2 linked regions of the Homo sapiens genome follow. The protein of the gene in region 1 purifies or fractionates together with the protein of each later gene. This does not show direct contact. Each region holds a gene or a part of one and is shown in the gene's direction. Other genes may lie near its edges.

What was found. Proteins that work in one complex are often made in the same cells at the same time.
Region 2: the proteins of CEP97 (region 1) and KCTD7 purify together in Homo sapiens (affinity purification with western blotting, with the first as the bait; one study listed by BioGRID). This does not show direct contact.

The regions. Positions count from the first base shown.
Region 1 is NC_000003.12:101,726,578-101,732,167, forward strand, and holds part of CEP97 (centrosomal protein of 97 kDa), read left to right. Parts: intron 1-16; coding exon 17-159; intron 160-805; coding exon 806-964; intron 965-2,236; exon of another isoform or gene 2,237-2,258; coding exon 2,259-2,360; intron 2,361-5,262; coding exon 5,263-5,376; intron 5,377-5,590. UniProt on the Homo sapiens protein: Acts as a key negative regulator of ciliogenesis in collaboration with CCP110 by capping the mother centriole thereby preventing cilia formation. Required for recruitment of CCP110 to the centrosome.
Region 2 is NC_000007.14:66,638,881-66,642,257, forward strand, and holds part of KCTD7 (BTB/POZ domain-containing protein KCTD7), read left to right. Parts: coding exon 1-352; 3' UTR 353-1,513; coding exon of another isoform or gene 1,514-1,514; 3' UTR 1,515-3,377. UniProt on the Homo sapiens protein: May be involved in the control of excitability of cortical neurons.

The DNA.
Region 1 (5,590 bases):
TCCGTTTCTTTTCAAGGATCAGTGGTCAATTGGTCAGGACAGGGACTACAGAAATTAGGTCCAAATTTACCCTGTGAAGCTGATATTCACACTTTGATTCTGGATAAAAATCAGATTATTAAATTGGAAAATCTGGAGAAATGCAAACGATTAATACAGGTAGGTATTGCAATCTGGGAAATGGTTACATAGGATCAATTTATTATTAAACAAAACAATAAAATAACCTGACAAAAAGTAACTGTGCAGCCCTAGCAAGCAGTCATTGTTGCCTTAAATTTTTACATGACAGTTTCTTCTGAAGATGAACATACATGTACTACATTGAGAGTAGATTAGAAAAAAAAAGCATTGTTAAGAAAAGGAAGCATTTTATTTTGCAAAATACTGTGTTACTAAGGTAACCTTTTACCTCATGATGGGGGTAAAGAGTTCATTCATTCCTTCATTCAAGAAATGGTTACTGCGTCCCTCTTATATGTCTGGCACTGTATTAAGTTTTGACTGAGAGTTTAACAGCACTATTCTTGTGGAACTTACATTCTCAAGTTGTTGCTGTGTTAAAAATGTCTTAGTAGTTAGAGGAGGTCTGATCGCTCAGCTTTATCTGTATTTTCTATTGCCCAGGAACAATAACAAAAAACTGATAGTCATACTGTAGAATATTTAGACAATATATGTGAAATGTACAAAAGGAGTTTGTTTGAGAGTGTTTGGCTGTCTAAATAAACCTTTTAAATCACTTTAATGTGAAATATTTTATATATGTTATTCCTAAAAATAACAATATGTTTCCTTTTTACAGTTATCAGTAGCTAATAATCGGCTGGTTCGGATGATGGGTGTGGCCAAGCTGACGTTGCTTCGTGTATTAAATTTGCCTCATAATAGCATTGGCTGTGTGGAAGGGCTAAAGGAACTAGTACATCTGGAATGGCTGAATTTGGCAGGAAATAATCTTAAGGTGAATGGTTTCTTTTTTGTTTACAAAACTATTCTGCGTAAAAAAAATTCAAGCAATGTAGAAATAAGTCAAATTAAAAAGTGAAAGTACCCACTCCCACTCTCCAGGGATAATCTCTGTTAAAATAAACTAAAAATAAATCTCATTTTGAAACATATAATATGACATAATATTCTTTTAAATTTGAACAAAGAATCTATATTGTACTTAGAAAAAAGTAGATCAAACCATAGAGTGTTTAGGAGGGAGACTATATCATGCTGAATTAAGCTTTAAGTAAATGTTTAATGCTATAAGGGAGAATATACAGTTTTAAAAGTTAGGAGATCTGAATTCTAGTCCTACTTGCACTACTTAGTAACTGTGTAATTTTGGGTAAATTAATACATATTTCTGCGTCTTATTTTTTGGCATGCTAGCTGAGAGGACTAGATTACCAATAGCTGCCTTTTATTGAGCCATTAATGTATCTGAGCTACTGTTCTAAACATTTATCTGTATTAACTTATTCAATCTCATGGTAGCCTGCGAAGTAGATATAGACATTATGCGTGTTATAAAGGTGAAGGAACTAAAGCACAGAAAAGTAACTTGCTCAAGGTCACACAGCTAGGAAGTTGCAGGGCCAGAATGTAAATCCAGGCTGTTTGGTTTTAATCTAAACTTGTAAACTCTATTCTATACCACCAACTGTCATATATTATTACTATGGTTTCTTTTGTTTTTTTTTTTTTTTTGATGGAGTTTTGCTCTTATTGTCCAGGCTGGAGTGCAGTGGCACGATCTTGGCTCACTGCAACCTCTGCCTCCTGGGTTTAAGCAATTCTCCTGCCTCAGCCTCAAGAGTAACTGGGATTACAGGCGCCTGCCCACCATGCCTGGCTAATTTTTAGTATTTTTTTAGTAGAGACAGGGTTTCGCCATGTTGGCCAGGCTGGTCTCGAACTCCTGACCTCAGGCTGTCCACCCACCTCGGCCTCCCAAAGTGCTGGGATTACAGGTGTGAGCCATAGCGCCTGGCCATTACTATGTTTTTTTTCAAGCTGTAAAGATCTTGGATGGTATGAACTACTTGGTAGCCCTCTACTCATAGAGAGATAATGAAAGTGTACGTTTACAACCTGACAATCTACTAAATTCTGTTAGTACTGCCCCTTTTCTCTTGCTAAGTTCTTCTACTCTGCTTCTAATAATAAGAGGAGGGAAGACACTCTTTCAGCTGCAAAGAACTAGGGAATAATTTTATTTTTTGATTTTGTTTTCATTAAATAGTGTGATGCTTTTCTTGTGATAGGCCATGGAACAGATCAATAGCTGCACAGCTCTACAGCATCTCGATTTATCAGACAATAATATATCCCAGATAGGTGATCTATCTAAATTGGTATCCCTGAAAGTAAGTATGTTTTCTTTGTCATTTGTGAAGTTTTATAGCAAAATACCAAGAGAAAGTAATCTTACTGACCTAAAATTAGCCTGCTTTGTATGAGCAGATTGCTTTCTTTATGATAAGAATTATGGGCTGGGCATGGTGGGTCATGCCTGTAATCCCAGCACTTTGAGAGGCTGAGGCGAGTGGATGGCTTGAGCTCAGAAGTTCAAGACTAGCCTGGGCAACATGGCAAAGCCCCATCTCTACTAAAAATACCAAAAATTAGTGGGGCATAGTGGTGCGAGCCTGTAGTCCCAGCTACTCAGCTAAAGCAGGATTGGTTGAACCCAGGAGGTGGAGGTTGTGGTGACCCGAGATTGGGTCACTGCACTCTAGCCTGGGCAATAGAGTGAGACTCAGTCTCAAAAAAAAAAAAAGGAATTATGTTAGAATACCAGAAATTAAGTTTGAAACTTTTTGTTGTTAGTTATATAACTCATTTATTTGATGTGAAACTGGTCATTGTAGTTAAGGTTAATTTTATTTACCATTCTCTGAACATGATGGAATTCCCTGTATGCCCAATCAACCAATATTAGTAACTTCAGTTATTATATAGTACATAATCTTTGGTGAGGTTGAGATTAATCATTCCTGAATTTGAGTCTGTCTTTATTTTTTTTTGAGACAGAGTCTTGCTCTGTCACCCAGGCTAGAGTGTAGTAGTACAATCTCACTCGACCTCCCAGGCTCAAGTGATCCTCTCACCTTAGCCTCCCAAGTAGCTAGGACCATAGGCATGTGTACATCACCACACCCAGCTAATTTTTTGAGTGTTTGTAGAGATGAGATCTTTTTCTTTTCTTTTTTTTTTTTAGATAGAGTTCTGCTCTGTCACCCAAGCAGTGGTGCAATCTTGGCTCACTGCAACCCAAGCAGTGGTTGCAGTGGTGCAATCTTGGCTCACTGCAACCTCTGCCTCCTGTGTTCAAGTGATACTTCTGCCTCAGCGTCCCGCGTAGCTGGGATTATAGGCGCCCACCACCACACCTGGCTAATTTTTTGTATTTTTAGTAGAGACAGGATTTCACCACGTTGGCCAGGCTGATTTTGAACTCCTGACCTCACATGATCCTCCTGCCTTGGCCTCGCAAAGTGTTGGGATTACAAGCGTGAGCCACTGCACCTGGCCAGAGATGAGATCTTACTATGTTGTCTAGACTGGTCTCAAACTCCTGGACTCTAGCAGTCCTCCTGCCTCAGTCTCTCAAAGTGCTAGGATTACAGGCATGAGCCACCGAACTGGCCGAGTCTGTTTTTTTGTTTTGTTTTGTTTTGTTTTGTTTTGTTTTGTTTTGTTTTGTTTTGTTGAGACGGAGTTTTGCTCTGTTGCCCAGGCTGGAGTGCAGTGGCGCAATCTCGGCTCACTGCAACCTCTGCCTCCCAGGTTCAAGCGATTCTCCTGCCTCAGCCTCCTGAGTAGCTGGGACTACAGGTGCATGCCACCACGCCCAGCTAATTTTTGTATTTTTAGTAGAGATGGCATTTCATCATGTTGGCCAGGCTGGTCTCGAACTCCTGACCTTGTGATCCACCCGCCTCGGCCTCCCAAAGTGTTGGGATTACAGGCATGAGCCACTGCGCTGGGTCCCAAGTCTGGATTTTTTTTTTTTTTTTTGACATTCAGAATTGCTGTTTTTAAAGTAATAGGTATTAGCTAATTGTCAAAATTAATTTCACTTAGAAAAAAACATGTAGCATGTAGCACTTTTTATGGAGGGGAATGTATCATGCAGTCAAATAAGTAACAGTTGAAATCACAGTCTTGAAAAACATGTAGAACATTTTAAATATTGTTGCCTCATTGGATATTATTACCATCAGATATGTTCATTAAGCCCTAGAAGCAGTATCTTAGTTCACTTTTTCCCAGATCTTTAGCAGAAATCATTTTTAGCAATAATTATTCTAAACATTTTGATGTAGCCAGATGTTGTCCTAATAGATGCTAAGAGAATTCAAATGAACCAAAGATGATTGAATTTTTTTTTTTTTTTTTGCTGGAATAGAAGCCTATTTATCTGATCAGAATCCTGGGTGTTCAGTTTTGGGTTTATTCTTGGTTGTTGCTGACTTAATGTGAGTCAGCTTTATCTGCAAGTAACACATTCTACCTCCCTTTATTTTTTAGTTACCTAGAGAATACAGTTGCAATTATGGATGTAGGTTATCACTCTCTTTTTTGGAAAATTTGCTTTATATGTGGTTGTTTTAATGACTTTTTTTTTTTTTTTTTTTTAATTTGAGACATCAGAGTCTTGCTGTCACCCAGGCTCGAGTGCAGTGGTGCAGTCATGGCTTACTATAGCCTCGACCTCCTGGGCTCAAGTGATCCCCCTACCTCAGCCTCCCCAGTAGCTGGAAATACAGGTGCACCTCATCATGCCTGGCTAATTTTTTGATTTTTAGTAGAGACCAGGTCTCACTATGTTGCCCAGGCCGGTCTCAAACTCCTGGGCTCAAGCAATCTTCCCTCCTTGGCCTCCCAAAATGCTGGGATTACAGGCATGAGCCACCACACATGGCCTCTATTTTGATATTTTAAAAGAAAATGAAAAAGTGTGTTAGAAATTGCTCAGTGTCTCATAAGTTAAATCTCACAGCATGCCTAGTTGCTATGCCAAGCATGTGTTTTTGGACAAGTCTTTAAAATATCATGAGCTTAGGATGTTGGTATGAAAACAGAGAGTTGGACCAGAAGATCATCAAGGACCCTTGTAGCATTAACAGTCTTTGATTTGTGTGTGATGAGAAATATAATAAAGTAGATTCCTTTATTCTTATATGTACCATTTTGGTGTTGTCACAATAGGCCAATTTATTTGTAATCTTTTCATTTGTAATTCATACTGTTTTTACTTTCAAGACCCTGCTTTTACATGGAAACATCATCACCTCTCTTAGAATGGCACCTGCTTACCTACCCAGAAGTCTTGCTATACTTTCTTTGGCAGAAAATGAAATCCGAGACTTAAATGAGGTAAAATTTGAGGGTATTTTGTGAGATTCAGGAAGCTGGAAATCCTAGGAAAGACACAGGAGAGGGTTGTGAGCTTACTTTTAGACTGTGAGCATCTTGGAAGAAACTGCCATTCATATGAAATGCTTGGCTCTAGATCTTTCCACTTTTCCTTAGTGTCAGTGGGTCATTAAGGTCTAATTTCCTTTGTAAAGCTGTAATTATCATTCCACTG
Region 2 (3,377 bases), on another chromosome or scaffold:
CGCCCGGCTGCGTGCGGTCCAGCGGAAGGCCCGCTTTGCCAAGCTCAAGGTCTGTGTCTTCAAGGAGGAGATGCCCATCACCCCCTATGAGTGTCCGCTCCTCAACTCCCTGCGATTTGAGCGGAGTGAGAGTGACGGGCAGCTTTTTGAGCACCACTGTGAAGTGGATGTGTCTTTTGGGCCCTGGGAGGCTGTGGCTGATGTTTATGACCTGCTGCACTGCCTGGTCACGGACCTCTCGGCCCAGGGTCTCACCGTGGACCACCAGTGCATCGGGGTGTGTGACAAGCACCTCGTGAACCACTACTACTGCAAGCGCCCCATCTATGAGTTCAAGATCACATGGTGGTGAGTAGCCCCGGTAGGCGAGAGTCCCATCAGGGAGGATGTCCACCTTGCTTGGTGGCTCTGGGAGTAAGATCCCTGAAGGGGCTGCTGACTGCCCCAGAATCTGCCGAGGTGAGAACAGCATCCTGAGGCACAGCTCCCAGGGGACAGAGGTGTAGCTCCAATCTCCCTGACTGCACCTCAGGGTTGGGCTCAGGGCTTGCGGCCTGCAGGCACTCCAGCCAGCGCTCACCTGGCCTTTCCTCAAGGCATGGTAGTCTTTCCTTGAGGCTGATAGCTAGGGCTTGACCAGGAAGTCCCGAGAAGTTTTGTCACCTTCTTGACCTTGCAAGAGAGTTTCTGCCCATTTTAGAGCCACGTTACCAAATCGATGTAGGCCTAATCACTTCCTCAACCCTGTTCAAGCGTCCCTCCCTTGTGCTCAGTATATTGGTGTGAACACGGAACATGATGGGGGATTTACCTGACCAGCCACCCCATAGCCCCTGGCTGAAGAAGAAAGAGCATCTTCTCTCCCACTGCACCCCTTCTCCTCCAAGAATAGTTGCCCACATTCCCAAAATGTGGAAAGACTTTTCTTTTCCTTCCGGAACATGTTCTTCACCACCTTTTGGAGATTTAACCATAGCTGCCAAAGCTATGCACCCAGTTGGCCTTAGAAAACCACAATGTTTACAGCCCTGTCTTAGGGCCGCGGCTTCTCTTATCTTCCACCACCTTCCTTGCTTGCAGGGTTATCTTCTCACAGGGCTGGAATGCAAATTTCAGAGGCTTCTTTTGAAGATTCCCCAAGTCAAGCAGGCAAGATGCCTAGATCTTCTGTTATCTTTGACATGTAACATCCTTTTTAGAGGCTCAGAACACCTCCTTGGCTGCTATCTCATGTGTTAGAATCCAGTTTGTGGTGAACCTCTTTGGAAGGGGACCCCCTCTCTTTAAACCCTGTTCCTCTGTCCTGGTAACATTCTCCTTCTAGGAGAGCCTCTCTTCTGAGAAGGTAAAGGAAGGGCTGGGTGAGACACACAGCTATCCTAGGAGCCGTAGGAAGACAAAACTTCCCTTTTGTTTTACTCCTCACTCCTCTATTTTTGTTTTACTCACTTCTTTATATTTTGTTTTACTCCTCACTCCTGTATATTTTGGTTTACTTACTCCTCTATTTCAGAAATTGAAAAAGATCCCCAAGGATCTGTTACTACTGCATTTCCTTCTTGCTCTGTCTACAGCCTAGGCCAACTAGTCAGGGTCTGGACATGCATCTCCTAAAGGAAGAACTGTGTAGCACCATTGATCACAATGTAACATTTCCATGCTGCATTAAGGGTGTCTCTCTCTAATCATGATTGTACCTGTCTCTTCCTGGGTAAAGGGAGATTTTTTTTTTTAATGTGTAAAGAATTGATGCGAGCCAGGAACATGTCTGTAGTCCCAGCTACTTGGGCACACGCCTGTAGTCCAGGCCACTCGAGCACACACCTGTAGTACCAGCTACTCTGGAGGCTGAGGCAGGAGGATCACTTGAGCCCAGGAGATTAAGACTGTAGTATACTATGATCGTGCCTGTGGCTAGCCACTGTGCTCCAGCCTGGGCAACACCATCGTAAAAATAAATAAATAAATAAATAAATTGGGGAGGACAGCCTCACTGGTATCAGACTTACAGGACCAGATAGACAAGATGGGTATAAGGGGAGCTGAAGTCTGTGTTCATATGAGGAAGAGAAGACCAAGCCCTGGGACTTTGGCTGAATTCCTCCGTGGGGCTGGACGGCAGTGATCTCCTGTTCCCTATGTGTAAACAAAGATTCCAGGGCGTGGTTTTGCACTCCTGTTGTACTCTTTTAGAGGTGGAAAAGAGGTGGATACTGAGATCTAAGAGGAAAGGATAGTCATTCACGTTCTGAGATATGCGCTCTCTCTATTGTTCTCGTACACAAAGGGATAGTCTCTTTTCTGGAGCTGATGTCCCTGCTTGGAGGTTAGCCCCAAAACATGGCTCTTGTATTGTTCTAAGAGAAAAGGCTTTCATTTTGGTTCTTCTGATTGGTGTTACCTACTGCCTAATATGTGTTCATTTTTTGACAGAGAGGCAGACTATTGAAAAAGTCTGTGTGAACAGAGAGCAGTTCATTAAGCCCATTGCTTTCAGTAATGTGGCCTTGACCCCTTCTGCTTCCCCCTTCTCCCATGGAGCATGGCAGGGCTTGGTTATTTAGAGTCCATACATGCAAGCCATTGAGAGACTTGTTTGCTCAAATGCAAGTTTGCTCAAAAACAGGTCCTGAAGGCTTGCTTAGGATTACAGGGATGCTGGGTAAGAACACCGTTCCTCTCTCTCGCTGGAGAAATCCCTGTTTCTCTGACTCCCTTTGTGATCCTCACAGTAATGTATTCTGTGCCACTGTAGGACACAAGGCTCTGGGCCAGTAGAACAGGCAGAGAGGTGACACTGGGCAGCAAGCTGAGAGCTCTTTCTAAATGGAGTGAAGGAATTCAGTGGCCTAGTTTCGCCATTCTCTAATGAGAAACCAAGGCCAGGCTGAAAAGTGCAATTAGATGTGGTGGATTGTGGTAACGGCCTCCAGATAAAGGGGTTATCCCTGTGGAAGTGACTTTTCCCCATTTGATCCCTTTTCAACTCTAAATGGCCAGGCCCAGAACAGAAGAAGGGTTGGGTCTGGAAGGAAGGCTCCAAAGGATGAAAGCTTCTCCCTGATCATAAGGAAGTGCATCTTTATAGAATTGTTGTGCATAATGTCAGTAAATCCCTCTCACTTGACAAGGGACTGGATTCATCTTGCCTTGAGACGGGCCAGTAGTTATCAGTGAGTCAAAGCAAAGTGAAAGTTTCAGGAGATGGGACCAATGGTGCAATGCTCGCCATAACAAAATTCCTTAAAAATAAAAAAGCTAATGTTATAGCAACAAAAAAAGACTGAAGCAAAACCACACTGAAATGCATCCCACTCCAGGAGAGGAATTCTTAGCGTAACACTCTAAATAAATGGAAGGAATCATCACCTTCCTTA